Homo sapiens: one gene and its partners. The protein of the gene in region 2 purifies or fractionates together with the protein of the main gene of each other region. This does not show direct contact. Each region holds a gene or a part of one and is shown on either strand. Other genes may lie near its edges. The genes, in order: NCK2, TNIK, NCK1 and CPVL.

Region 1 (6,883 bases), on a different chromosome or scaffold from region 2:
AGCACAAATTGCAAAGAGATGAGGTGTAAGAATTACCTAAAGGAATGAATAATGGAAGAGGTAGTCAAAATTAGAAATTTTTAAGTCTGCACGTTTGTTGAACACCAGATACTCTGAGCCCGGTGTGGGGATGTGGAGCTAAATAGGGTTCTTGCACTTAGTTGTATTCAAACACAGAATCTAAAGCCTAAACAAAAATAATGATGATAGAGGCCCCGAGAGAGGTTGGTTTTCCGCCAACCTATTAATTGTCCTTAGATTCCACTTGGAAAATGACTTCTGAAAAGAAGGGTCAAATGAATGGGTTGTACTAATTGTTCATTCTCCAGAACCATTGATTCAAAAACTATGAGAATGGAAAAATCATTCCTTATAAGGAGTACTCATAGAAGGACATAACAGGAAGAAGTGGTCTGATGTTTGAAAATTTGAAGAATTTGCCCAGTAGTCAGCACAGAGAAATTACTATATACCAAGTAAGTACAGTGTTTGGAGATGGAAAGTGTAGGAAATGCGGACAGTGGGAGGTAGCACAAAGGTGGCAATTAAAGAGGAGAAATCAAAGGGGAGATGTTTCAAAACCCGGGGACTGAGTCTAGTTAGGTTTTAGTCCAATCATAGAAAATTGTAATGAGTGTCCTGTCCATCTATGATGGCTTAAAAAGATGTCCATAAATTCTTTGGTACTCTTTGCTTCAGAAGGTGGAGCCTGACCCTCTTCCCTTCAGCATGGGCTGCACTGAGCAACTCACTTCTAATGACCAAGATGTGGCAGAAGCGATGGAGGGCAGCTTCCGAGATGGGCATTGTGGCTGCCTCTTTGCTCTCTCTTGGGTCACTTGATCTAGGGTGAGCCAGCTGTCATGTTGAGAGTACATTCAGGCAGCCCTACAGAGCCCCCTAGGGGTTCATGTGAGCAGACTGCCTTGGAAGTAGAGCCTGCATCCCCAGTCTAGCCTTCAGATGACTGCAGCCTCAGCCAGCATCCTGACTGCATGTTTCAAAAATGTGTTAAGATTCTTTGACAAGCTTAAATGTAGAGTACTCTACCATACTATCAGTACTCTAGTACTTGTTGAGGAGCAAGTGTGGCATGGTCCTTTTTCATCCAATTTCTTGAAATCTGTTCTAGAAAGCCAACCGTGGAAGGACTGCAACAGATGAGAATAGGACTGATGGAGTTGCTTTCATGGGAATCATTCCCTGGCTCCCTCTGGAGGCAGAGTTGTTTTGGGTCGGGAGTAACTCCATCTCCATCAGATGCAGGGACTGGTGGCTCACTTTGAAAGGAGGAGACCATACAGCAGTGTCCCAGCTGTCCCTTCAGGGGAAATTCCCTATGAGAGATGTCTGGAGCAGAGCCAGAGTCCTCAGGACAGAATTGGAAAAGTATCCACAGACTGGAGCTCCCTCCATCATGGGCTGCTTTGCCCATAAATGGCATTCCCATCTTTTTCTGGTGACCAAACATTTGTTGGTGGCTCCAGCACTGCCGATGTTTGTTCCAGATTTTCTTTCTTCCAGTTCTCAAACTGCATCAGAGTCCCCTGAAGGGCTTATTAAAACACACGGTGCTGGAGGTTAAAACACAGATGGCTGGGCTCCACCCCAGAATTTCTGCTACAGCAGGGTTGAGGCAGAGCCTGAGAATTTGCATTTCTTTTTTTTTTTTTTTTTTTTTAATTATTTTGAGATAGGGTCTCACTCTGTCATCTAGGCTGGAGTGCAGTGGCCCTGTCATACCTCACTGTTGCCTTGACCTCCCGGGCTCAAGTGATCCTCCCACCCTGGCCTCCCAAGTAGCTGGGACCACAGGTATGCATCACCACACCTGGCTAATTATTTTAAATTTTATGTAGAGATAGGGTCCCACTATGTTGCCCAGGCTGATCTCAAAGTCCTGGCCTCAAGTAATCCTGCCACCATGGCATCCCAAAGGGCAGGGATTACAGGTGTGAGCTTCCATGGCTGGCCCTTGAGAATATGCTTCCTAACCAGTTCTCAGAGGATGCTCATGCTGCTGGTCTTGAGAGCACACTTGGAGAACATCTTAACTAGTTCATCTTCACACTTCACTTAGAGGTGTTCAGTGGTCATATGTAACGGTGTATGTTAGTATACAGATTGTTCTTTTTCAGATTTCCTACAGAAAATCTACTTAGTTTAAATTAAAGAACACTCCCCAACTTTTAGCACTCCTGCTTGGCATAAATTGGTTCTACATCCTTAACTTTTAAAGGTTTCTGCTCAGGAGCCCACGAAATTAAAAATTACCTCTTCTGCTGCGAAAATTTTATTGCTGCAACTCATGCATGCATACAGGCACACACACACCATGATGTTAAATTAAGGAGCTTGAATTAAAAGCAAATTTCCCTTATGTAGAAAGTCATCTGTTGATCATTTGGCTTAATTAAAATTGGGTGTATCTTACATCTACCATGATTCACTCCCATACTGCCTCCACTAAAAATGATGCCACATTATCTCTAAATTGAGCCTGGCTTATAGTAAACTCTATAAGTGAGACTGCCCTTCATCTTTTCCTAAAGATACAACTTCTAGTACAGAATATTAATCATCTATAGGCTGAGGCCTAATCTGAGATTAACCTTCTGGTTTCTTCCTGGAGTTTCATCCAGGAGTATGCCCTGGGCCTCACATGGGGATGAGATGGGGCTTTTCGCCTCAAAGGTTTGTTCTTATTTGGTCTATTTGAGACAGAGGCATGCATAAATACAAACTATACTTACAATTGTTCCTTTCATTCTTTTCTGTTAACAGCTATGGCTGCTGGGTGAGCCCAGCTGCCTTGCACAATTTGAGTCTTCTCAGACACTCATTCCCCTGAGTTGTCATTGGTAGAAATGGAGTGATTCCTTGTTTTGCAAGGGTTGCACACTTCTCATCAAACATTTATTTGGGCTTTTGTGAACTCTGTAATAGACAATGGCCTAGTCCTTTGTTAACTGTCTGGAGGTCCTGCTGGGAGGTCGCAGAGCAGGGCTGAGCTGCTGGACCCTCAGAGCAGGAAGTTTCTGGGCTTTGAGAAAAGCAGAAAACTGGTCTGGGAATTCCAGGAAGAATTTCGGATGTTAGGCTGTGGTCCTGCCACTGGCCAGGCATGTCCGAGGTACCAGCCCTGCCTCGGAGAGCACATGCTCAGCTCCACATTGTCCAGAGGGCTCTCCTGCCCCCACACGCACTTATACATTCACACAGATGAACTCACACGCTACGCATACTCTCACACACTCTCAATACTCACATACTCCCTCTCACATCTGCGCACGCTCACACACTTAGAGCTGCGGTATCTCATGCTCCTCTTTCATGCAACTCTTTTTTTTGTTTGTTTTCTTTTTTTTTTTCATAGAACTTACTGCCCTGTGCAGCCATCTGTACACCTCTATTTATCTGTTCCCCACACCAGATTGTCACAGAGCATATGTCCTGCATGCACACACATGTATCCAGGGCACCGCCTGCCTGGCATGTGTTAGTAACTAATTGTTATTCATTTAATGAATTGATCAAAACTTGATATTTTTGTACAAAGAACATTTATCGTTCAGTATCTTCTTTCCTGCATGCTTTTCAGCAAATGAGATAAAAGACCAATTTTTTTTTTTTTTTTTTTTTTTTTTTTTTTTTTTTGAGATTTTTCGCTCTTGTTGCCCAGACCAGAGTGCAGTGGCGTGATCTCAGCTTACAACTTCCACCTCCCAGGTTCAAGCGATTCTCCTGCCTCAGCCTCCCAAGTAGCTGGGATTACAGGCACACTACCACCATGCCTGGCTAATTTTGTATTTTTTAGCAGAGATGAGGTTTCACCATGTTGGCCAGGCTGGTCTCAAAGTCCTGACCACAGGTGATCCACCTGCCTTGGCCTCCCAAAGTGCTGAGATTACAGGCGTGAGCTACTGCACCTGGCCAATAAAAGACACATTTTAATTAAAATAATGACATGTTTCTAAAATATTCTGAAATAGAAGGCACATCACAGAATTTAAATATTTTTCAATAAAATCTGTAATCAAACCATAGTTCAGCTTCCTCTGGGATATTGTGAACTATGTTTAAAATGCGACCGGAATTTTCCACTGCTGTTCATATTTTTAAATGCTTAGAATTAGAAAAATTAGCCAGGCATGGTGGCACATCGGGAGGCTGAGGCAGGAGAATCTGCTTGAACCTGGGAGGCGCAGGTTGCAGTGAGCCAAGATCACACCATTGCACTCTAGCCTGGGCAACAAAAGCAAAACTGCGTCTCAAAAAAAAAAAGAATTAGAAAAATTTTGATGTCTTAATTTCTAATAGGGTTAGACATCAGAAGTAGTAAAATTTCTAGCTACTGCCTGCATGCAAACCACTCTTAATAAATTCCCAGTTTATCAAAAAATAGTTTGGGAAATGAAAAACAGCAAATTTCTTGAGCAGTCAGGGCAACACTGTATATTCCATAGTGAAGTGCTGTATATTCCATAATGAGTTTGCACTTTTCAAATAACTAAAACGCATTTAGCACTGAAACTGGGCTAAGCAGAATTTATTTTTTCTTTGGTTCAGAATTTCAGAATCGTGGACTACCTCCAGGTCTTTCTGAACATCAGATGCCGTTCTAGATATAAAACAGAGACCCGGCTGGGCGTGGTGGCTCATGCCTGTAATCCGAGCAATTTGGAAGGCTGAGGCTGGGAGGGGGGTGGGGATCACCTGAGGTCAGAAGTTCAAGACCAGCCTGGCCAACATGGCGAAACCCTGTCTCTACTAAAAATACAAATATTAGCCGGGCATGGTGGCAGGTTCCTGTAATCCCAGGTACTCGGGAGGCCGAGACAGGAGAATCGCTTGAACCCGTGAGGCGGAGGTTGCAGTGAGCCGAGATTGGGCCACTACACTACAGCCTGGGCAAAAGAGTGAAACTCCATCTCAAAAAAAAAAAAAAAAGCAGAGACCCAGTGTTTGAGCAATGGGTGGTTTGGATTTAGACGCACAAGAGATGTGGATGGATTTAGACACAGCTCCCCGCTGTGGCCCGGCTGTAACTGTGTTCTGTTTCCTCCCCAGCCCAGCGACTTCTCCGTGTCCCTTAAAGCGTCAGGGAAGAACAAACACTTCAAGGTGCAGCTCGTGGACAATGTCTACTGCATTGGGCAGCGGCGCTTCCACACCATGGACGAGCTGGTGGAACACTACAAAAAGGCGCCCATCTTCACCAGCGAGCACGGGGAGAAGCTCTACCTCGTCAGGGCCCTGCAGTGACGGCGCCCCGGCCCCACACTCGCCTCCCGGGCCCCACGGTGGAGCTGCCCGCCCGGCCTTGTGGCAGAGGCTCCTCCCGCGGGGACGGCCCCGACGGCTTCTCTGCGAGTCTCTCTTTATGTTCAGGTCGCTTGGTCGGTTCGTCTCCCATTTGCCATCCAGGCCTCACACCCACACTCGAGCCCACCCGGCCGGCCAGCTTTAGAGGAGGGGAGGAGCAGGGCGAGTTCACATTATTCCTTTTCCATCGGAAGTGGCGCTCGTGCATTCAACTCGTTCCCGCTCATGGAACCCCTCTTTAAAAAGACGCAGGGCACCTGTGAGCGCAGGAGCGAGCCTAAGGCCACCCAGCGGCAGCGCCCGTGTCCTGGGCACTCAGCGTGCTGGGCAGAGCAGGTGCGATGGCCCCAGTCCTAGCAGCCCTCGCCCATGTCCTGTGCCCTTACATGGCTCCCGGACTGTGCAGGGAGCCGATACGTTTGCTGATAGCAATACTGGAACCACCGGGTGCGATGGCAGTGAGGAGACTGCCCAGTGCCTTTGGGGCTGTGCTTGCAATAAAGAATTTCCTGGAAAGGCAGTCTGCAAAAGAGGGAACCGGTGACTCAGAAAGACAGATGTTTTGGTAATTTACCCCAAATGTGCCATCCACATAGTGCTTTTTCCTCTTGCCCTTCGGCTTGTTTGAATCTCACAATTATGTATTTAATTCTCAAAGAAATATGTATCTGTAGCCGTTTGTTGACACTAATACAGATGATTAAGGAAAACAGCTGATCTTTGGGGAAGGGAGCTACCAACACTTTATACACACACACACGTGCACACACACACACACACACACTATATATATATATATTATTTACAGGGAAATTTTTCAGGGTTTACAAAAGAGTATGTGATTGGTAGTAAGAGACACACAGAATGTTTATGAAGAAATTGCATTTTCTTTTTCCTTTACATTTGAACTTCTTTATAGTTTAAATATAACGTCTTGAGATGGCACATTCCTACGATTGAAGAAGGGGTCTTGAGATCCCCTAAACTTGCATACCCAGTTTTTTGGATATTGTAATAAAAAAAAGTATTATGACAAGGCTCTGTGTGTATTTATCTTTGGGAAAACTCAGACTCAATCATGGGAGAGTAATTACTGAAGCATTCACTCATTGCGGAGTGGAAATCATTTTTAGAGAAGAGCTTAACATTTATTACTTGTGTGTTTTCATTTTCTACCCCCACATTTTTGTATATTGAAATAATGAGTTTTAATTAGTGAAACCCCAAGGGAACCCAGAATCTCAAGCTTGGTCTGAACTTTGCTCTTTGGAAAATATTTGTTTAGAAATATGTTGCTGAACTCTTGGCAGCCAGCGCTCTCACACCATGTGTCCCCCACGACTAACTCTCGATTTGTCCTCTTGATCGGGAGCATTTATATTGATGTGCCAGGCCCTGGGGGTGCAGAGTCACATGACTTGGCATTTGTGCCCTCCTAGGCCAATCACGTATCAAGCGCTCCCTCTGCACCATGCACTGCGCCCCCATTTGTTCCTCATCACAGCCCCATGAGGTGGGACCTGCTATCATCCCCATTTTATAGATGGGGAAAGTGAGG
Region 2 (7,095 bases):
ATTGACTGTGTACATTAAAGAGCCACCGAAACAGCGAGGGACTGGTAAGTCTGCAGCAAATTCTCCCAGAAGCCACTGACCTTGGCTGCATTTCAGGGGTCAGGCATTCCCCAGGAGGGGCTCAGCAGGCAGACTTTACCAAGGGCTTAGGAACAAATGAGACATCTCATCTAGATGAGGCCACCTCTCCAAATGTGGCAAGGTGGAGATGATCTGCCCTCTGATTTGTGGAGATTACCTATGTGGCCTTTGGACCCACTCCAGCAGACACACCTCACCCACAAGACTGGTCAAAGACCCTGGCCCTCCAGGATATAACTGTCTCCACATCTGCATCTAAGTCTTCTAGCCAGCAGTTCCTGGTCCCCAAGCTAGCTGTTGCCCTCTCTGTTTCCACACCTCCCAGCAGGCAGAAAAACAGAAGCAGAGCCCTAAGCTGATAGCCCAGGCCACAAAGAGCAATTTCAGTGAATTGTGCAAAGATATATTTTCAAAATACAGATCACAAGAAAGCACATCCCAAGTGTGAACCGCAGTCGTCCGCCCAGTGGGCCCTCACCGGTTGCTCCCCTGCCTGCAGGCTCCGTGCTTGGTATCTCAGAAAACCTTCCCGAGGAAAAAGCCCATAAGGGACAAGTCCCGGCCCAACTTAAAATCACATCAGACTGCTTTCCAGTAGAGGAGCAAGGTCGAGATTCCGGCCCAGGGAAATCACCGCAAGCCCTGCGCATTGTTCAGACCCCTTCCCCCTTTGCCACTTCCCGCCCCCCACCCCGACCTCCGACCGATTCGCAGCACCCCACCCCCAGTCGGGGCCATCCATCCACCTGATTAACTCGCCGGCAGCAACTCCCAGCGTAGAAAGTAGGGCAAATGAACACACACAGTCGGTAAAGCAGGAAGCCACAGACCTGGCCAATGCACCCACCCTGTTACCAACCCCACCCCGCTGCGCAGGGGGCAGCCGGTTCTTGATGTGGCATTTCCACTCCAGGGAAATAGACAGCTTCCTGTAATAATGCATGAATGAGCTTTGGCTGCCCAACTATCAGAACAGCCCATTTCAAACGGCATCTCTGTTTCTTCTCAACTCCTTACTTGCCTTGCTGAAACCTCATCTCTTAGCCCAACAGATTAAGACGAAGAGAGAAAGACTTATTCAAAGAGATGTGGAGGAAAAGGTTTAATTAAGGAGACCAAAGAGAAAGTACCACTTTGATCACAAAGGTAGCACTTTAATATATCAGTGCAGATAGCGGCAATGTCAGAAGTACTAGGAATCCAGGTAAATGGCCCCAAGATTCAGCATCAATCTAACAATGTATTCCTCAGGAGGGCGTGTGAACTTCCATGCTTCATCCATCCTGGTGTCTCCCTGTAGAGAGCCACCATGAATTCCTTCTCATCCACCCTCCATACATCAAGTATATGCACTCGCTTTCTTTTTAATTTTATTTTTGGTTCGGGAGAGGAAGAAGCAGTCCTTAAATTGGTGTCCAATCCTTCTCAGACACCCGCTGCTGCCACCATCCCCACCCCTCACCCCCTTCCAGGCAGGCAGCATCTAATTAAAATGGCAAGAAAGCTCTGCCCCCTTCCCCAAAGGAGTGTGTTGGGATCGGGAGTTGGGGGTGGGGAAGCGTCGAAGCAGCACTTGGATTCCTGGTATTCTGATCTCAAAACAACAGCAAAATGGATTCTATATCAGTGATGTCTTAGTCAATACAATGAAACGGCGTCTGAGGTAATTCACGTGAAGGTAAACGCAAACCAGTGGGGCTGGGGGGAGGGAGGTGCTCTACAAAGGACTGGCCACAGACACGGGGAAAACACACACAGACACACACACACACACACTCGCACACACTCCAGGGAGTTCCGGTCTGATTGAGGAAAAGCAGAAAACACATCCCTTTCACCTGCTTAAGTTCAGCCATAAAACTGAAACGTTACAGCCACAAAGTCAGAAAGAACAGGCAGGGCTGAGTTAAAGCCATAAATAAAGGTGAGTGGCAGACTGGCATTTAAGGGAGCGCTGAGAGGGCGCCCGGGCGCGGGAGGTAGAAAAGGGGGAGGGGGAGGCAGTTGCCATCTACAAGACCAGCATAGCAATAACTGCCCCCTTGGAGCGGCAGGTTCGGCTTCGCGGGGACAGCCAGCCTCACAATGTCATCTTGCAGGTAGCTGGAAAACGTGAGGGGCCAGTGCCTTTATTCACGCTGGCATTCTTTTTGCAGAAGGGACAGTCGGGTCTCGCGCCTTGGCACCAGACAACTGCCCGGGGCGTGTACACACACACACACACACACACACACACGCACACACGCCTTTCATTTTAATGCTCTTACACCGGTATAAGATGAAACTGGCATAAGCTCTACGAGCCCTCGGGAGAGCCTAAGCCACGGCCAGAGGAAGACACGTACCGCACAGCCCCTGCCGTAGGGGCTCAGCCAGGAGCACCTCAGCAACCCCGAATCAAAACGGGAATCCAGGTTCCCTCCCCGACGCATTCTCCCGCTGCTGTCCCCCTGCCCCAGCCCCAGCCCCCAGTCCACGCACCGAGCCCATTCACCCTAACCCAAACCACTGGAAAGAAACCAGAAAACGTCCTGCTCACCCTCAGAGCCGAGAGATCTATTTCATCCAGGCTTCGAGCCGGGGAGTCGCTCGCCATGTCTACTTCTTCGCTGGAGAAATGGACCAAAACCACCCCGAAGCTTTTCCCTTGGAAATTCCACCTTGGTCTATTTCACTCGCGTCCTCATGCGGGTGTCGCGCCAGAGGCCCCGGGCCCAGCCTCCCCCGCCCACCCCAGCCCCACAGCGCCGGATCCCGATCCTCCGCGCGTCGGTCCGCCGGGTCCGGGAGCCCAGCCTGCGCGGATCTCCAAGCCCCGAGCAGCGGTGCGTGTGGGCTGAGCGCCCCGATCGGCTAAGGGCGCTGGGGCTGCGTGGGTGTATTTAAATGGGACATGCTTCTTTGCTTGTGCGTGGATGGCGGCTGCATTGGCTGTTATAATGAGACACATCAACTCCTCCACTCAGCAGGGGGAGGGTGGGGGTGGAGAACCACGCAGAACTGTCTATCACCGCTTCCTGGGAGGAGTGAAGGGGGAGTGGGGAGGCGGAGGAGGCGTGGTCTTGGACTGGGGAGAGGCCGCGCTTCCTGACCCGGTCCCTCTGCACCAGCGTGGAGGGGGGAGGGGCGCGCACCCTTTCCGCCCAGGCTTTTGCGGGCTCCTCGGGCCGAACCCGAAGGGGCTGTTCCTGAACCTTGACTTGTTATCATAGGGACCCAAGCTCTATTTTTGTGTGGCCAATTCGTGCACTGCAGCAAAATGGCCCTTCAGTCGCGTCTTGGGGTTTCTCCTCGGTTCAAATGCTCTCGCGCTGAGAAAAAGCCGGAGGAAAAAAAAGCGACACCCTCCCTCCCCCATTAATTATTTGTGGGGCCGGAGTAACGCGGGCTGGTGCAACCGGTGCATATAAGGACTTGTGTGCAAGGAAGGGGATCCGCCTCCAGGCGCGGAAAGAGTAGGGAAGAAGCGCACACGCACAGTGCACCCAGCTGGGCGCTTCGGCAGTTTGCAGCTGCGGCGGGGTCGGGTCCACCCGCGGTCCCCGGAATGCCGGACGGCTGATCCCGGGTGCTGGTCACTCGCCGATTCGGGGCTGGGAAGGTTTGCCAGAAGCGGGAAAGATGGGAGATCTGAGCGCTCTCTTGGCATCGCCACACCCAGGACTTGCTCGTGCCGCAATTCCCCACGGAAACAACCGAGTTGAAACGAGAAGCTTGCTCTCTGGGTGCAGTAGCTAGAAGGCTTCAGGTAACTCCAAAGCCAACACTGGGTGAGGCAACACACGCCGCCTCAGGACTCAGCATTTCTTTCAGGCTGCGTTTTCGTGGCAGACCTACCCAGATTGATGGAGAAAGTTTGGCTGGCGGATAAGAAGTAACGCGGAAGATGTGTACGTGAGAGCGATTTCACTTCACTCACTTTCTCATTTAAAGGTTGGATGTTTTACAGTGGTATACATGATTCTCCTTCTGTAATCAAGAGTGGGAAGTCGCTTCCCCCAATCCCCGCGCAGCCCTTCTTCTCCCGCCTTAGCCATGCAAAATACCTAGAAAGAAAACACTAAAACTGAACTTTTTTCCAAATACAGCAGTAGCTTTGAAAGCATTCTTTGCTCCTCTGTTAACAGCAGAATGTAATTCTGACCACTGCACTGATGGTTTCTTAATCATGCAGTATGAAGATCAGCTTCAAAATAAGTCTTATGAATGAATGAATGAAAGCCAGTGCAGTTAGTTCATCATGACTGCAGACATTAGAGGACTTTGAAACAACCTTTGGTGTACATTGTACTGTTTTTGTTACTGATATTGTATGTATTCATATGCATTGTGGATCATGCACCATGAAACTTGAAAATTGTTCCAACATCTCAATGGCCACAACAGTTTGGTAGCTTTTGCCTGTAAACGTTGTATGTAAACATTTGAACGTGTTATACTAAATTACTAAACTCATTTTTTACTAAAATCATCTGGTTCGACATAGTAAGTAACGTGCAGTAAGCCACCACGTCGAAATGAAAAAAAAAAAACAGATTATTTCCCATCATTGTCTTTGTTTTTTTCTCTTCTGTGTTCCTGTTTTTTTACCGTTCATCTAGACAACAGGTTAATGTATTGTCTCAGGGTTGAAAGAAGATAATTTAAGATCAAGTATTAAGATCTATAAACAACTATTTTTTTAAAACTGCAAACATAAGGAAATATGAGTTAAATATTTTTTCCATGGAAAGCCTTCGTTTTATACTCATGATTATATTTGAAACATCACAAACAGATCAACTTTTTTGACATTAGTGAGCTGTTTGGGCCACGAGGGTGCCAAGTTGGCATTCAGATTTAGTTTAGTTTTAGATGAGAAAGTTATAGATGCAGTATGATGCCAGGTGCTAAATGGAGGAGGGCTTCCTAAGAGCCTGAGAAGTTGATGAGACAGCCAGGGGAAGGCAGGGGTGTGGGCTGCAGGAAATACCATAAAAGGAGAGATTGCAGTATCAAAGGGACCTCCAACTGGTAAAGGAAGGTGAGAAGGAGGAACTTGAACTTTTTCCTTTTGGTCAAGTGTGTATCAAATTTCAGCTATTCCAGTATAAATTTCCTAATTTTTTCCTATGTCTCTGTATTGCCTGTACTATTTTACCACTTACTTAACATTTTTCTTTAAATCAACACTTTTTTCTTACACTTAATATAAAAGAAAACATAAATCACTACTCTAAATGGAAAGCCAACAACACTTGCTTTGAAAAAAAAAGGGGGGAGGAAACCATTAAAATAAATATAATGGAAAATAAAGAAGTATTATTAAATTCTAGCTAGCCATCAATTCCTGCTCTGGGCTTCTAGCCTAAGGCCTACTCTTAGTTTGTTAAAAGAGAGAATAGCAAATACCAGGAAAAACATTCAAGACTTGAGATTTTTTTCTTGATGTAATCTGAAGGATTAAGAGAACTGACACCATTTATGTGCAGTTTGAAAACCTGCCGAATAATACACTATGCTGTTTACATATGTATAAATATGTAGTAAACTATATAAAGCATGGATACAGGCAGTAAGGATACAGATTAACTTCAGGATAATGAGAAAAGAGGAAGAGGAAAAGGAGACTCCAACAATGATACCTAATTTTTTTGCTAAAGATTTCTGCCAGGCACGGTGGTGGCTCACACCTGTGATGCCAACATTTTGGGAGGACAGGTTGGGAGGATAGTTTGAGTCCAGGAGTTCGAGACCCGCCTGGGCAACTTGGTAGAACCCCATCTCTACAAAAAATACAAAAATTAGGTGGGCATAGTGGTACACCCCTGCAATCCCAGCTACTAGGGTGGCTGAGGTGGAAGAATTGCTTGAGTCCGGGAGGTTGAGGCTGCAGCAAGCCAAGATAAGCCACTGCACTCCAGCCTGGGCGACAGAGGGAGACCCTCTTTATAAAAATGAATAGAAAATTTGAATAATAAGTAATACTATGCTGCAGATATTTTTCTAAGCATTTGTTCTATCTGAATGTTTGTGTCTCCCAAAATTTATGTGTTGAAACCTAACCCCCATAGTGATAGTATTAAGAGGTGGAACCTTTAAGAGGTGATTAGATCATGAGGGCAGATCCTTCATGAACTGGATTAGTGCCCTGAGAAAAGAAGCTTGAGGGAGCCTGTTCGCCCTTCCACCACATGAAGATGCATAGAAGGGGCCATCTGTGAGAAAGGAGCCCTCAGCAGACTTCAAATCCGCTGATATCTTGATCTTGGACTTTCCGGCCGCAGAACTGTGAGCAATTCTGTTTCTGTTGTTTATAAATTACCTAGTCCAAGGCATTTAAGTAATTTAAGTAACATGGAGAATAAATCCAGAAGGCCCAATATTCATCTGATAAGGGATCTAGAGAATGGATGGAAGGAAATACTCAAAAAATGGTAGAAAATATTCCAGTATCTTGACTGGGCACGGTGGCTCACACCTGTAATCCCAGCACTTTGGGAGGCTGAGGAGGGCGGATCACCTGAGGTAGGGAGTTCAAGACCAGTCTCACCAACATGGAGAAACCCCGTCTCTACTAAAAATACAAAATTAGCCGGGTGTGGCAATGCATGCCTGTAATCCCAGCTACTAGGGAGGCTGAGGCAGGAGAATTGCTTGAACCCTGGAGGTGGAGGTTGTAGTGAGCCAAGATCGTGCCATTGCACTCCAGCCTGGGCAACAAGAATGAAAAAAAGAAAATATTCCAGTATCTTTAAGTAAAAAGCTCTCATTTAGCTCTGAGCCAAATGCATAGGTAAAAAATAACACACTTAAACACCTCACAGTGAGATTTCAGAGCATGAAGGATAAAAAGTAAATCTTAACTGGATTACCTTCTCATCAGCAACAATGGATGCTAATAGACAATGGAACAGTATTCTAAGGAAATCATTGTAATGGTGTTTTGTCTTGTTTTGTTTTGTTTTTGAGACACAGTCTCTCTCTGTCACCCAGACTGGAGTGTGTGGCTGGCTCATTGCAGGACCTCAGTGA
Region 3 (7,311 bases), about 35 Mb from region 2:
AATCCCAGCACTTTGGGAGGCCGAGGCAGGTGGATCACGAGGTCAGGAGTTCAAGACCAGCCTGGCCAAGATGGTGAAACCCTGCCTCTACTAAAAATACAAAAATTAGTCAGGCGTGGTGGCAGGCGCCTGTAATCCCAGCTACTGGGGAGGCTGAGGCAGAGAATTGCTTGAACCCGGCAGGCAGAGGTTGCAGTGAGCCAAGATCCCGCCACTGCACTCCAGCCTGGGCAACAGAGTGAGACTCCGTCTCAAAAAAAAAAACAAACAAAAGAAAAAGAAAAATATATATATATACAAAAAAATTAGCTAGGCATGGTGGCACACACCTGTAGTCCCAGCTACTTAGGAGGCCGAGGCACAAGAATCGATTGAACCCGGGAGGCAGAGGTTGCAGTGAGCCAAGATCGTGCCACTGCACTCCAGCCTGGGCAACAGAGACTCTGTCTCAAAAAAAAAAAAAAAAAAGAAAAGAAAAAAACCCAGAACCATGAAGTATCACTAAGTATCTCTTTTCTTTATTATTTTCCTTTTTAAATTTTTTTATATTTTCTTAATTTAGAGACAGGGTATCACTACATTGCTTAGGCTGATCTCAAACTCCTGGCCTCCAGCTATCCTCCCGCCTTGGCCTCCCAAGTGCTGGGATTACAGGCTTGAACTACCCCGCCTGGTCTCCCTCAGTATCTAACAAAACATTACACATAGGTTTTTTTTGTTTCTGTTTTTTTTTTGTGTGTGTGTGACGGAATCTTGCTCTGTTGCCAGGCTGGAGTGCAGTGGCGATCTTGGCTCACTGCAACCTCCGACTCCCGGGTTCATGCAATTCTCCTGCCTCAGACTCCCGAGTAGCTGGGATTACAGGTGCGTGCCACCACGCCCGGATAATTTTTGTATTTTCAGTAGAGACGCGGTTTCACCGTGTTGGCCAGGCTGGTCTCGATCTCCTGACCTCGTGATCCGCCTGCCTCGGCCTCCCAAAGTGCTGGGATTACAGGCGTGAGCCACCGAGCCCGGCCAACATTACACGTAGGTTTCAAATTTTATTTAGATGGACCTGAAAGCACTGCAGAAACCTGGACAAAGGATAATGCCTAGAAAAATAAATACACATTTTATTTATTTTTTTGAGACGGAGTCTCGCTCTGTCGCCCAGGCTGGAGTGCAGTGGCGCGATCTCGGCTCACTGCAAGCTCCGCCTCCCGGGTTCACGCCATTCTCCTGCCTCAGCCTCCCGAGTAGCTGGGACTATAGGCGCCCGCCACCACGCCCGGCTACTTTTTTGTATTTTTAGTAGAGACGGGGTTTCACCGTGTCTGCTAGGGTGGTTTCAATCTCCTGACCTCGTGATCCGCCCGCCTCAGCCTCCCAAAGTGCTGGGATTACAGGTTTGAGCTACCCCGCCTGGACTCCCTCAGTATCGAACAAAACATTACACGTAGGTTTCAAATTTTATTTAGATGGACCTGAAAGCACTGTCAAAACCTGGACAAAAGATAATGCCTAGAAAAATAAGTACACATTTTAAAATTTAATACATGAGCCAACAGCTGAGTAGATGTGAACACTCTGCAAACTATGTTTATGGATATTACAGCCAATTTCCACAGATCACAATTTTCCCAAAGAAGTCTCAGAGTTTGTGGTCAAGATGAAAAGAAAGCACCATTTATCAACCAGTGCATATTACTATCAAGTTGTGAATGGGATGCCTATTTAAGAATATCACAGACTCCACCCCCCACAAGAAAATTAAGTGTTTTAAAAAGAAAAGAACGAATATTATTGACAATTACCAAACAAAACTTTCTTCTTAGGTTATTTCTCCGTTTACTGTGTGACCTCGCCGAAGGCTGAGAGTCTAGGCACACTGGTTTCCAGGTGCTGAAGAAATCGTTATAGTTGGTTTGTCATACGTCTATCAAAGTAAAATTTTAAAAATGAGTACCTTTTGGCAACACCCGTTTTGGGAGGACATTGAGCTGCTTTGCTCCCTACCCAAAGAGGAGTTAGGAAATTCTCTTTAACCTAATTCTTTCCTAATTTCTAGGGCTTCTTACCTAATCTAACGTGCATAATTATTTTCAGGTGACTCCGGGTCCATCAGTTTGACACCGAGAGCGTTCCTACGGTTACGTCCTCACCCCTGAACAAAACCCAGCTTCCTGAGCTTCTAACGGCGAATTTAACTTGTATGTTAATACAGAAGAAAGGTTACAAAACCTATCGAAATGGTTTTTTGTTTTACCAAACATATTACAACTCAAGTCAAAAGTTCACAGCCCCAGCAACTCGCGTACGAATCTGAAGCAGGTCCAGACCATTAAAGTCACAGCCCCAGACTAGAAAACGGCCGGTGGGTGGGGGGAGGGGAGAGGGCGCGTCCCGAAGATGTCCACCCGCAGCACCGCGCAGGCTGACGCCTCCCCTCCTCTCGGGCTGGAGGTGAGAGCGCCCTTCCTCCTACCACGTCCCTACCTTCCCGGCCTCGGATTACGCCACAGCTGGCAAAAGGACTTTTTCATGAGAAAACAGACAAGTCAACCAGCGCGCCGCACACTCGACCTCCCAGGCTCGCACGGGCGGCCGCCCGGGCTCTCAGCCCGACACAGCGCTCCAGGGGCTGACAAGGAGGCCGCGGGGTCACGCTCCCTGGGGCAACGGCCCGAGGGTCTCGCGGAATCCCGGTGCAGAAGTCTGGACCCTCCGAGCAGCCTCCGCGCCCCCTCCGGCTCGGCTCCGAGCCTGCAGACGGCGCCCCCGGGGCTAACTCAGCGCGAGAAGAGGAAGCGACGCAGCGAGTAACAGGCTGTATGGACGGACAGCGGACTGAAGGGGGGTGTGTGTGTGTCTGCCTGCCAACAAGGCCGTCTCACCTTCCCGCTGCCGAGCCGGGCAGCTCCAGCTCACCTGAGGAGGGCTCCAGGACGCCACTGCGGCCGCCGTGATGGCCGTAACGGCACGAGGCCTGCGCTCCGCCGCCGCCGCGTAGCTCTTGGGAGAGAGGCGGGGCACGCGCGGTGGGCAGGCGGATCCGCGCGGGCAGGAAACCCACTCTGGACCCAATCTGATAGGTTCAGTCGCCCCCTTCCCCGGTCCCTGACGCGACAACGGTCTCTGCCGCACTGGGATTGGGCGGGCCCTCATGTCAATCAAGCGCCGTGCCTGATGTGGAGGGAGCGGAGGCTGCGCGGCGGAGAGTAGAGAGCTAGAGGGTGAGAAGCGCTGGGCCGGACCAGAACTGTCTTAGCTTTTCCCTCTGCGGCTGCTCTGGTTGGTTACTTTGAGCCTGCCTCCTCAGCGCCGCAGGAGAGACTTAACAGCAAAAATGACTGTGTCCTGAGTTCAGCCCCCACTGCTCTGGGAGCTTCCCCCTGGTTTCTGCACCTGAAGAATGTCATCCCAGCCGAAGGTTCTTAGGAGCGGGGAGCGACAAAGAAAAACAAAGAAAAGCAGACCTGAAAATTGGGACCTGGGAGAAATGTAAGACATGTGCTTAATTTGAGGCACAGACCAAAAGAAGCTGAGTCTGAGGGCCCTCTAAAAGTGTCCTCGTGCTTGGGCAGCTTACATTCTTGGCGGCAGTAGTGTTATGAAGAGGACCTTCGGAGCCAGGTCTGTCCATTCTTAGGGCTCCAGCCACTGGCTGAGGCATCAGTAAGTTGGTTCTTCCCCTCGCCGGTGCTGCAGGCCCCCTTCCCCGCCCCCGCGCCGTAACCTGCCTCTTTTTTTTTTTTTTTTGAAACGAGTTTCGCTCTGTCGCCAGGGTGGAGTGCAGTGGCACGATCTCGGCTCACTGCAACCTCCGCCTCCGGGTTCAAGCTATTCTCCTGCCTCAGCCTCCCGAGTAGCTGGGATTACAGGCATGTACCACCACGCCCAGCTAATGTTTTTGTATTTTTAGCAGTGACGGGGTTTCACCAGGATGGTCTCGATCTCTTGACCTCGTGATTCGCCAGCCTCGGCCTCCCAAAGTGCTGGGATTACAGGCGTGAGCCACCACGCCCAGCCGCCTCATCTCTTCTTAACCATCTTTGTGGCACAGTTTAGGATCGCTCCTCAGGGAAGCTTGCTCAGTTAGGTACCTTCCTTGGAGCACAGGTGTTTTCTCCATCCGAGCTATTGAAATGGTTTGCCTGTATGTCTACCTAGATTGTAAACTCCGTTGAATCAGTAACCATGTCTGTTCAGTTTCTCCCTAGGGCCTTGCAGTAGGGTAGATGGTCAGTAAATACTGTTTAAGGCATTAATACTTTTTATTTTAATCCTGGCCCTGGATATCAGCCTCAAAAGTTTGCAGTTTTCTGCATTTAACTTCAAAATTATTTACGTGATTGGTAATGCATGCATGTGGTTGGCCTGTGCTGTAATTTAGATGTTTGTTCCCCTAAACCTCCTGTTGAAATTTGATCCCCAATGTTGGAGGTGGGGACTAATGGGCAGTGTTGGGTCATGGAGGTGGTTCCTTCAGGAATAGATTAATGTCCTCCCTGGGGAGAGGGTAAATGAGTTCTCTTTATTTCCACCAGAGCTGGTTAAAAAGAACGTCGCACTTCCTTTCTTCTTTTGCGTCCTCTCTGGCCATGTAATCTCTGCACACACCAGCTCTCCTTTGCCTTCTGGCATGAGTAGAAGCAGTCTTAGGCTACCATCAGATGCAGATGCTCAGTCTTGAACTTTTCCAGACATCAGAACCATAAGCCGAAAAACCTTTTCTATTTCTAAATTATCCAGCTTTGGGTATTCCTTTCTAGCAACACTAAAGGGACTAAGACAGCCTGCCATATGTAGGATCACAAGGTCAAGCACAAATTTACCTATTTATGCTGTACTATCCTCAGGTTGACTGGGACAAGTAGACCATGAAACTGGGCAACAGCTACTCTATGTCTACATTCTGTTATTAGCATCCAAAGTGAATAATGGCGGTGAATTTTGAGTTTATTCTAAGGGTTTAAATAACTGCATATTTTATCATGACTGGTATGGACTGAATTGCATCCCCCCCAAAAATTCATACTGAAGCCCTCACTCCTAATGTGACTATATAAATGTTCCTTAACTTACAAAGGGGTTATGTTCCAATAAACCCACCATAAACTGAAAATACCTTAAGTTGAAAAGATCTTAAGTCAGAAATGCATTTAATGCTTCTAACCTACCAAACATCATAGCTTAGAGTAGCCTACCTAAAACATGCTCAGAATACTTACATTAGCTTTCAGTTAGGCAAAATCATCTAATACAAAGCTTATTTTTTAATAAAGTATTGAGTATTTCATGTAATCTACTAAATACTGAATGAAAAACTGGATGGTTTTATGGGTACTCAAAGTACAGATTCTAGAGTGCATATGGCTTTTGGACCATCATAAAGTCAAAAAAATCTTAAGTCAGGGACCATCTCTAGTTGGAGCTAGGCCTTTAGGGAGGTAATAAAAATTAAATTAGGTCATAAGGGTGGGGCCCTAATCCCATAAGATTAATGTCTTTATAGAAAGTGGCACCAGAGAGCTCTCTCCATTTGAGAACACAGCAAGCAGACAGACATCTGCAAGCCAGAGAGAGAGCCCTCACCCAAAACTGACCATGCTGGCACCCTCTTTTGGACCTCCCAACCTACATAACTTTGAAAAAATAAACTTCTGTTGTGTAAGCCACCCAATCTAGTATTTTATTATGGCAGCCCAAGCTAATACAATGGTTTTATTTGTTGATACATTTTATAAAGTTTACAGACTGAGATATTATATTCATTTTTGAAGAAACTTGTCCAGAGTTAAAACTGTTGCTGCAAAATCACCCATCAAACTGTTAGCACAGCGTGACTCAATTTTAATTCTAATTACATATTTAACATACGATGGAGGCAGAAGGTGTGAATATAAATACAACAGGTAAAATACAGAAATACAGTTCTTGCCTTCATGTAGCTTACCACCACCTTAAGTGGGGAAAATTAACCCAGCAAAAAGTATGCTGAAGTCATACATTTAGGGTTTTTGTTTGTTTGTTTGTTTTTTGAGATGGAGTCTCGCTTTTTTGCCCAGGTTGGAGTGCAGTGGCACCACCTCAGCTTATTGCAACCTCCACCTCCCGGGTTCAAGCAATTCTCCTGCCTCAGCCTCCCAAGTTGCTGGGACTACAGGCACACACCACCACACCTGGCTAATTTTTTGTATTTTTAGTAGAGACGGGGTTTCACAATGTTGGCCAGGCTTGTCTCAAACCCCTGACCTCAGGTGATCCACCCACCTCAGCCTCCCAAAGTGTTGGGATTACAGGCGTGAGCCACAGCACCCAGCTAGTTTATCCTCTTAATTTTCCTTCTTTAATCTTTCTCATCACTCATTCTTAACAGGAACTCTTTAAAAAAATTTAAGAAACCTCCAAAAATATATGCAAAAGAGGAGTCAAAGAAGAAAAATAAGCAAACAGCAATGAAAAAGGAAAGCATAGACTGGAAGGGCAGATAGGCAGAAAGGCATGTATGTAATTGCACTTAGAAGGGATGCAGTACATGTTTTAATGGGGTGGGAGCTGTCCCAGAGACTTCCTTTCACACAGTCTGTCTCCCCAGCTTCCAAATATAAACATGCACATGGCTGCTGCTTCCTCTCTTTCAGGGGAACTCAAACCAAAAACAGGAATCATCCTTGCTAATTAGTGCTGAGTGGATCAGGGACTAACCAGAATCAGGCAACAAGAAAATGTAAGTCAAAACTTATGATCAGCCCTGGCAACAGAGCTAGACCCTGTCTCTACAAAACAAAATTTTTTTTAATCAGCTGGGCATAGTGGCATGTGCCTGTAGTCCCAGCCACTCTGGAGGCTGAGGTGGGAGGATGGCTTGAGCCCAGGAATTTGAGGCTGCAATGAGCTATGATCACACCACATCTCAAAACAAAAACAAAACTTATCTAGGGACTACACGTGGAGCTTTGGATATGGGCAGCTAATCTGTCTATGATTAAAAACACGCAGGTGGCTTACTTTATTAATCCAAAATAAAAGAATTTGGGAACACAAGAAAGGGAAAAATGAGCCTCCATGTCAAGACCTTTCCCAGAAACCTGATAGCTTATAGTTAGAAATTGTTATAGACAGTCCAGTGCAAGGAGGACATTAAGCCACAGGGGAAAGGAGTTGTGTGGCCAGGTTAGTCAGGCAATTAACTAGAAAAAATCTGTCCACATAGAGGAGCCTGCATAATAAAAAGGTATTAAACGATAGTAGAATATTGCTAGAGCAGAAGATAGCTAGAAATATAATCAATAACCAGGTTATGGAAGTCAGGCACCTTAGAGTTTA
Region 4 (7,992 bases), on a different chromosome or scaffold from region 2:
TACATTCTCTCCCAAGAATCATACAGTACAAAAAGATATGTGGCACTATCTTTTTGAAAGAGGGGTAATGGGATACAGAGTCCCAAAAAGGAAAGGAGGAAGAGCTTACCTTTAGGGTTCAAAGTAAATATTTTGGCCTGTAAACAATTCTAAGCAATTTAAAGACAACCAATAACTAGAATCAGACTAGAGAGAAAAAGGTAGGAGGTAAGTTCCAACTATATTGGAAAGATAAGCTGCTAAGAATTTGCTTTTTCAGGCTCCAAGATCTAAGGACACAGTCCTTCCCCCTCTTTCACTACCACCACCCTGTCCTGCACCCCAGGGTCTGAGTTAAAGCAATGAAAGCATGTGATTTCATGTTCAAGGTTATACCTCTAATATCTCTTAAGGGAGAGCAATCTCAATACCCTGGTTTCAGTTCAGATACGCTGTAACAGCTGTCTTGTGAACTGTCTATTAAGGCTTACATCTTTGAGCTTGCAAATATAGTATAAAAGTTCAAACTCCACTACTGTTTTTACCAGGAAAGTACAGTTCTTAGCTTTTTGCCCAGCTTACCTCTCTCACAAGTCAATATAGACGTTAATGAGTCATTGTTCTAGAGGTATCTTTCTAATTCTGAGAAGCTTGCCTACTTCTTTTAAATGTTCTTAGTTCAGTCAATGAAAATCTCACATTATAAAGCCATCGGAAATGGTAAACTAAAACAATCATGTTTGCTCTTTAGTGAACCATACTTCCTATTAAGAAGGGGTCACTGGCCAGGCACAGTGGCTCATGCCTGTAATCCCAGCACTTTGGAAGGCCGAGGTGGGAGGATCACTTGAGGTCAGGAGTTCGAGACCAGCCTGGGCAACATGGCAAAACCCCATCTCTACCAAAGATACAAAAATTAGCCGGGCATGGTGGTGTACACCTGTAATTCCAGCTACTCAGGAGGCTGAGGCACAAGAATCCCTTGAACCCGGGAGATGGAGGTTGCAGTGAGCAGAGATGGTGCCACTCCAGCTTGGGTGACAAAGTGAGACTCTTGTCTCAAAAAAAGAAAGAATGGGTCATTACTATTTACCTTGAGTATTTGGGTGCTAATAAACAGATATCTGATGATACCTGGGGCAAGAACTGAGTTCCTCCCCTCTCATTGCCTTAGTTCTGTGCATCCCAGGGTAGTATTCAACACTCAGTGTTTCCTCTGACAAACTAGATGCTTCCCAAAACAAAAACAAACTCATTTTTAGAATTCTGTTATATTATTTGCTTCTTGTTTTTATTTTTTGTGGGGAGTGAACTGGTAAACCCAGTGGACTTTCTTAACACTCTTCTAAGTCATTCAAACTGTCAGTCAAAACCCACCTATTTCTCAGGCTAGTAGAATCCCACTATAAAGTGATTTATAAACTGGATTTATATAAATTGGGGGATCAATTGCCCCTCCCAAACAATCATCTCCTATAAAAGATTAATAAAACAACATCTGGTTAAGAACACTGACACTACATTATAAAGGGTTGCCCCTGTACTTAGACTAGCATGAGGTACACATCTAGAATGCCCAGTTAGCCAAACGGTCTTGACGACCATGCAGACTTTCATATGCCAACAAAGCCGGTGCAGTGTACTTTTCCAAAAGTGCTCCAATTCTCCTTTTGGACAACTTTCTTAAACGTTATTTACCAAGCTAATAAAATGTATTCTCAATGGACTTTTTACTCTGCTTACATCTTTGTTCTTACTCATCCCAAAGCAAAGAATGGAAAAAAAATGAGTTGTACATTTAGCCGGGGAAGGGAAAGGCAAGTACTGAGGGGCTCCTTTTTCATTTACTGATGCCAAAACTGAGGCTGTGGAAGATAAGTTACGTCCCTGATGTCATCCAAGTAGTGGATACCGGAACCAGGAATTGCACAGAATTGTCCAGCTCCAAAACCCAAGCACCTTGCTTGGGACCCACTGGGGTTGCAGTGAAGGTGGGGGGCTCAGAGGTGACTGCACACGGGTCATGCATAGCCACAGTCATTATATGGCCAGAGTTTTAAACATTATTTTGTTCTGTCTTCACCATAGACTTCATCATCAATCATAACTGATAAGGAAAATTACACTTAGCTGAAAAGCCAAGTCCCGTGCTAGGGAGGCATTTTCTGTATGTTATTTCTATTTCCAATAAAACAATTCTTTAAAAAGAAAAACTTATTATCTCCATCTTTCAGATGGAAAGACTGAGGTTTAGTAGGCTTAAATAATTTGCCCGAGGTCACTCACTAGCCAAGGCCAGAACTGGGATTTAAATCCACAAATATTCCAAAGTCCTTTTGTTTCTGTATCACTTCACAGGGAGCTGCTTCCACCTGTCTCCTGTGCCCTTGGTTTCTGCTAATCCTACATTCCAAGAATAAAAGTCTTCCTATGCGTTCCTAGGCAGAAGCCAAGTTTCCCTGCTTTGGGCACGTTCAAAATAGAAGGTATTTTCCGCTTCTCTTGCTTCTGAGCACCCACGAAATCAACACATCCCCAAAACACGCGTTGAGGGAGTAAGGGAAAGTGTCCTGCACCCGCCACCCTCCCGCGCTAAGAGCGGCAGAGGACCCCACAGCTTCGTACTTCCCCGGAGGAGCTCCTGGAGTAGGAGACGGCTTCTAGCCTGGAAGAACCCCGGGTGCGACAGTTGTGCCAGGAAACTTCAAGAGTATTCCCTCGGCTGGGCGCACGCAGTACATCCCCAATGCTCCAATTTGAACTTTGACTCGGCCACGACCACCCCACTCCAGTCTCACTCTACGGTGCTTTCTCCCCTGTTGGTGCTGAGGGCTTTTGAGACTACCTGCCCCGCGCTCCCTAAGTCCGAGGGACCGAGGCGAGGACCTGTCCCGCTGAGCTGGCACGACCCACGCAGGGCAGGCGGCACTTACGCGGCGCAGTCGGTGCTCCTCCCTGAGCCGCGGCGCGCAAGGACCCCAGCCGGTTGTCCTTGCAGCGCTTCCCAAATCAGGCAGAAGTGAGGCAGCCCCACCCAGTCACGAGGACCCTGCAGAACTCGAGCCTTTAAGCGCTCCTCTAGGCTCACATGACCCAGACCCACAGGGCAAAAAGTGCGTCGTCGTGTCCCAACCTCCTGGTCCCAGAAACCTGGCCGCATCAAGTCAGCGCTTCCCATGCTGGAAGAAGCAAGCAGCCCCAGGGTGGAATCTTAAAAATTAATGAAGAGCATCGGCGGGGTGCCATTCAGGTTGGTTTGTCCCTTTGTTTTATTTTGATTTTGTCTCCCAGTTTTTAAAAGCTGCTATCTTAAAATTTCAACCCTGTATTTTGAAATTATTTCTGCACTCTAGGACTTACTTGCAAGCCCAGGATTTACATTTGGAAAGCGAGTGGTGTTTGATTCCCACTGTTTAAAAAGGCAACACACGTTCGCTGATGGTCTACATTCCAGCTGCACTAGCAGTAAGCTCGCACCAAGTGCCACTGTCCTGCCAAGCACTCTCCTGAATCACTGCGCTGGAGTCTCAGAGCCACCTGATGTGTTCTGTACCATTATACCCATTTTGCAATTGGGGGACACAAACTAAGTGAGGTTAAGTAACCCATCCAGGGTCACATTGCTTGTAAGTGACCTGAGTGTATATTATTAGCCACCACCAGGTGCTGGGCATCGAGCCAGACAGTACGGGAGCAAGAACTAAAAAAGGCAAGGAGGTTGCAATGGCAAGTAGATAACACAAAATAAAGGAGGGTCATCATTATCAGCAACAGCAGCGTCAACTGCCAGACAGGTGGGAGAGGCCACGGGGAATCTTCTGCACTGTCCCGGGCCAACCTCCATCTCCTCACAGCTAGCTGCAGGAGTGAGCCCAGGGAAACCCGCAGTAGAGCAGCCCAGCCAACCCGACAGTCAGGGGGAAAAATTGTTTTAAGCCACTTTCAGTTTCGCGTAGTTTGTTATGCAACTAAGGCTAACTAAAGCACTAGTTTTACGAGCTGGAACAAACTAATGTCACTGAATATCTGTTTTCTCCTAAGTACCTACTTTATTGGGTTGTTGTGAGGACTCACTGAAAAACTATGTGTAAATCACCCAGCACAAAGTATGTGCTCAGTGACTGCAGTCATTCTTTGCTATCATACCTTCCATATGGAAGTACTTCCTACCCACCTAGCTCTTTAAGGAGAAAAATCTGTTTGTGGGAAAATAATTCTTTTAAGGCCAAAATCAGCCCACCTTTAATATATGCAGGACCCAGGGCAAAAGTACAAACAGAGATCTGTAGGCCAGATACCTAAATATTTAAAAGTTATAAACAAAGTTAACAAATGATTAAGTACAATAAGTTCTACCTTCCTACCTAGACAAATATACCTTGGGAATTGACATGAAAGGCCAGATTGAAACTTTGGATGATCTGCACTTAAATATGATGGTGCAGGGAGAGGCGATTTCCAGTTCCTGGTTTGCAGCCACCTCCTCTCTTCCCACAGGGCTCTAGTCCATTGGTGGAAGCTCGGTCAAGCTTCCCAGAAGCAGCTGTCCCCCAGCCACCTCTTGGGCACAAGAGTATGAACACCAGAGTCAGCAATGTTCGCCCATGGGAGTACAGACATTAGCAGATAACACTGCTGCTGGCGTGCAGACCCTTGAAGCAGGCTCAGTGCCATTTGGGGAGGGAATTTGGAATTTGCCTTCTAAAGTGTGGGCCCTGGACAAGGGCTCCTTGGGTCTAAGTATAAGGACAACTACTGGCCAAAGAATACCTGTGCCCACGTGGAACCACTTAAAAACTAAACTGAATTTTACAGTAAACACAGGAGGAGCCATGCTGTAAGCATATTTATTCAAAAACAGGGTGTCCCAAAAGTCTTCCTGCAGTTTTAGTAACCTCAAGGCTATAAATGCTGCAACTTATAAGAACACCATTTGAAAGTTAATTTAACACTATTTATCTCTGTGAATGTTGAATAACACGTTTTAACTTTAATTTTTGTTTCAGTTCCCCTGAGTGAAATATGGCATACATTAACCAGAAGAGAAAATTACATTTATTAAAATAATTAAAACAGAGTCAAAAGAAGTAAACGTTCAAATGAGTTTTGTAAGTTTGTAGCATTTCGACTTAAGAAGTTATTAAAGCTTAAAACTGCACTGACCTTTTTGGGGTACCCTGTATTCGGATTTGTCGTGTGTCAGGTTCTGTGCTAGACACTTGATTAAAAAGAAAAAACAAGAAAAAAGATAGTCTTCTTTAGGGAACTTGAAGTTTAGTTGTGGGGAAGGGATGAAGGGGACACACAGATTGATCCCATCATACAATATAAGAGCTGTAATTGGGGCTGATAAAGTGTGTGTGTGGGGGAACAGAGGACAGGGACCAAATGACTCTGCCCGAAGAGCCAGGGGAATCCTGTCAGAGGAGGTGACTTGAAGCTAGACATTAAAAAATGAATAGCCACTGAGGGGAAAGGTGGCAGCACAGGCAATGAGCAGGCCACCTGCACTCAGGTTGATGCTGTGCTCTTGGACAGATGGACTGTGCGACACCAGGCGTGTTCAGGGTGGGTCGGGGGTTAACTAATACTGAGGTTAGAAAATTAGACTGGAGCCAGCTTGGAAAGGGCAAGAATGCTGAGCTCTAGAGACTGATGTTGTTCAAAATTAGTAGATTGGGAAGTCTGTTTCCCTTTTTTTTTTTTTTTTTTTTTGAGACAGAGTCTTACTGTGCCGCCCAGGCTGGACTGCAATGTCGCAATCTCAGCTCACTGCAACCTCCACCTCCCGGGTTCAAGCGATTCCCTGCTTCAGCCCCCCGAGTAAGCTGGGACTACAAGCACCCGCCACCACAGCCAGCTAATTTTTTGTATTTGTAGTAGACACGGGGTTTCACCATATTGGCCAGGCTGGTCTCGAACTCCTGACCGCAAGTTATCCACCTGCCTTGGCCTCCCAAAGTGCTGGGATTACAGGTGTAAGCCACCGTGCCCAGCCTGGAAATCCATTTTCTTAATGAAAGAGAATAAAATAGAACAAAATAGTACAGAACAGAATAGAACCATAGGACAGGAGTATGTGCTTTCCAGGGAGGTTGTAACTGAGCAGCTATTAACAGTAGAAATTTATTGTCTCATAGTTCTGGAGGCTACAAGTCTGAAATTAAAGTGCCAGCAGGGCCAGGTTCCCTCTGAAACCTGGAGGGGAAGGATCCTTCCTCGCTGCTTCTAGGTTCTGGTAGCCCCAGGTGTTCCTTGGCTTGTGGCAGCATCAACCCAATCTCTGCTTCAGCCTTCCAGGGCTTTCTCTCTGTGTCTTTTCACAGTGTCTCCCCTCCATGTGTCTGTCTCTGTGTCCCAATTTCACCTATTTATGAGGACACCAATGACATTGGATTAGGGTCCACTCTAATGACCTCATTTTAGCTTGATTACTTCTATGAAGACTCATTTTCAAAATAAGGCCACTTCACTGCTGCAATAGATATTTTTAGCCCTTCTCTTGTATTGAGAATATTCAAAGGTTGGCCAACAAATCGGTTTGCAAAGAGATTCGTTAAGCCTTCTTTGATTGGCTTTCCTGAAAACAAGATTTAAAACTGTCAGGTCGATCACAAGCCCTTGTGTTCTCTGCACCTGCATATTCTAGTGAGGTTTGGGTTTGTTAAGCCCTAGTGGTTCAGAGCATGGGTCAGACTCAGTTTGAATCTAGAACCTTGCACCTAATGACCATAAGCAAGTTACTTAATCTCAGTTTTCTCATCTGTACATGATAAAAATACTATTAGCTATCTTGCGGTATTATCAAGAGGAAGAAATAAGATAGTAGTACATATAAAGTGCTTGTCATATATAAAGGCTCAAAAAATGGCAGCTGTAACAATAATAATGGTGATCATGACAATCAAGATTCTAGGCTGTGACTGCAGTTCTTTCCAACTGTCTATCCAAGACAACTAAATTGTATCTGGACACCACACAAAAACATGCTTCTCACTGACCTATAGCCGGAGCTTTGCTGAACTCCTTAAATTCCAGTTAAGAAGACACAGAGAATAGATCATTTACACATCTTGATCAGGTAAATACAATTCCAATTGTCTAAGTTTGTAGGTCTGATTTTACATTTGCAGCTGCTGCCAGCAAGATAAATGTGGAGCTGCAATGGAAACAAGGGGAATTGATTAACCTTGTAGGCAATCATGCCCCTCTTGGAAGTGTCTAGGTCTCTCCCTGCACTTGTCAAGGCTTCTATAGCCATTGTTCCTTTTCAGTGTTGTTACTGATCTTCAATGGGGCCACCGGGTAGCCTGGAAACACAGCTCAGAGGCACAGCGAAAAGAGAAATGTCACAGCCCCCATGCACCACAATTAATTGTTCAATAAACACTTTTCTTAAGGAACGAAGCCAGATGTGTCACACCCACACACTTGCAAAACAACACTGTGCTATTAAAAAAGGGAGGGGTGGGTGGTAGATCCAGCTGAAGAAAGTCTACAGCTGTTCTGCACCTCAGCTATAAGCATTGAAGGCTTCATTAAGTGAGAAGTAGGCCCAGGTGGCGGTAACCAAGCTCTAAGACACAGACACATGCCCTGATCAACTTATTGAAGTGCTTCAGTCTCCTTGTACTTGGTAAGGAAGGGGCACCTCCTAAGACTAGCCACAGGCTACAGACTCCAGGGAAGTTGTGGATAATTACATGGTAATTATTTCTAATAAGTGCTTCCACTCTTAGCATGATTATCCTTCCCTGGGTTGCTTGCCTCCTTATGCCTGGTTTATGTAGGGAAACAATGTCCAAATTAATCTACGTCTTTTGTAAGTGAGCCTATACTCCTTTGACGATCCAGATGGTTTAGCGCCCTTTAGCAGCAGGTGTTAAGGCTTTCTTACAAAAGGCATATTTTCAGTTTCCCTTCGGCTATGGAAAAAGCCAGGCAAATAAGACTTCGGTGATTTAAGGATAAATTATGGGATTAATATAGACATGGCCACTAAGGACAGCTGAG

What was found.
Region 1: the proteins of TNIK (region 2) and NCK2 purify together in Homo sapiens (affinity purification with mass spectrometry; 5 studies listed by BioGRID and IntAct, with this or other methods). This does not show direct contact.
Region 3: the proteins of TNIK (region 2) and NCK1 purify together in Homo sapiens (affinity purification with mass spectrometry; 3 studies listed by BioGRID and IntAct, with this or other methods). This does not show direct contact.
Region 4: the proteins of TNIK (region 2) and CPVL purify together in Homo sapiens (affinity purification with mass spectrometry; 2 studies listed by BioGRID and IntAct, with this or other methods). This does not show direct contact.

Annotation. Positions count from the first base shown.
Region 1 is NC_000002.12:105,887,912-105,894,794, forward strand, and holds the end of NCK2 (cytoplasmic protein NCK2), read left to right. Parts: intron 1-5,070; coding exon 5,071-5,265; 3' UTR 5,266-6,361; downstream 6,362-6,883. UniProt on the Homo sapiens protein: Adapter protein which associates with tyrosine-phosphorylated growth factor receptors or their cellular substrates. Maintains low levels of EIF2S1 phosphorylation by promoting its dephosphorylation by PP1.
Region 2 is NC_000003.12:171,457,387-171,464,481, forward strand, and holds the start of TNIK (TRAF2 and NCK-interacting protein kinase), read right to left. Parts: upstream 3,020-7,095; 5' UTR 2,678-3,019; coding exon 2,621-2,677; intron 2,006-2,620; exon of another isoform or gene 1,832-2,005; intron 786-1,831; exon of another isoform or gene 560-785; intron 1-559. UniProt on the Homo sapiens protein: Serine/threonine kinase that acts as an essential activator of the Wnt signaling pathway. Recruited to promoters of Wnt target genes and required to activate their expression. May act by phosphorylating TCF4/TCF7L2.
Region 3 is NC_000003.12:136,857,919-136,865,229, reverse strand, and holds the start of NCK1 (SH2/SH3 adapter protein NCK1), read right to left. Parts: upstream 3,023-7,311; 5' UTR 2,877-3,022; intron 2,782-2,876; exon of another isoform or gene 2,479-2,781; intron 2,085-2,478; exon of another isoform or gene 2,061-2,084; intron 1,919-2,060; exon of another isoform or gene 1,797-1,918; intron 1-1,796. UniProt on the Homo sapiens protein: Adapter protein which associates with tyrosine-phosphorylated growth factor receptors, such as KDR and PDGFRB, or their cellular substrates. Maintains low levels of EIF2S1 phosphorylation by promoting its dephosphorylation by PP1.
Region 4 is NC_000007.14:29,143,517-29,151,508, forward strand, and holds the start of CPVL (probable serine carboxypeptidase CPVL isoform b precursor), read right to left. Parts: upstream 3,022-7,992; 5' UTR 2,913-3,021; exon of another isoform or gene 2,605-2,912; intron 1-2,604. UniProt on the Homo sapiens protein: May be involved in the digestion of phagocytosed particles in the lysosome, participation in an inflammatory protease cascade, and trimming of peptides for antigen presentation.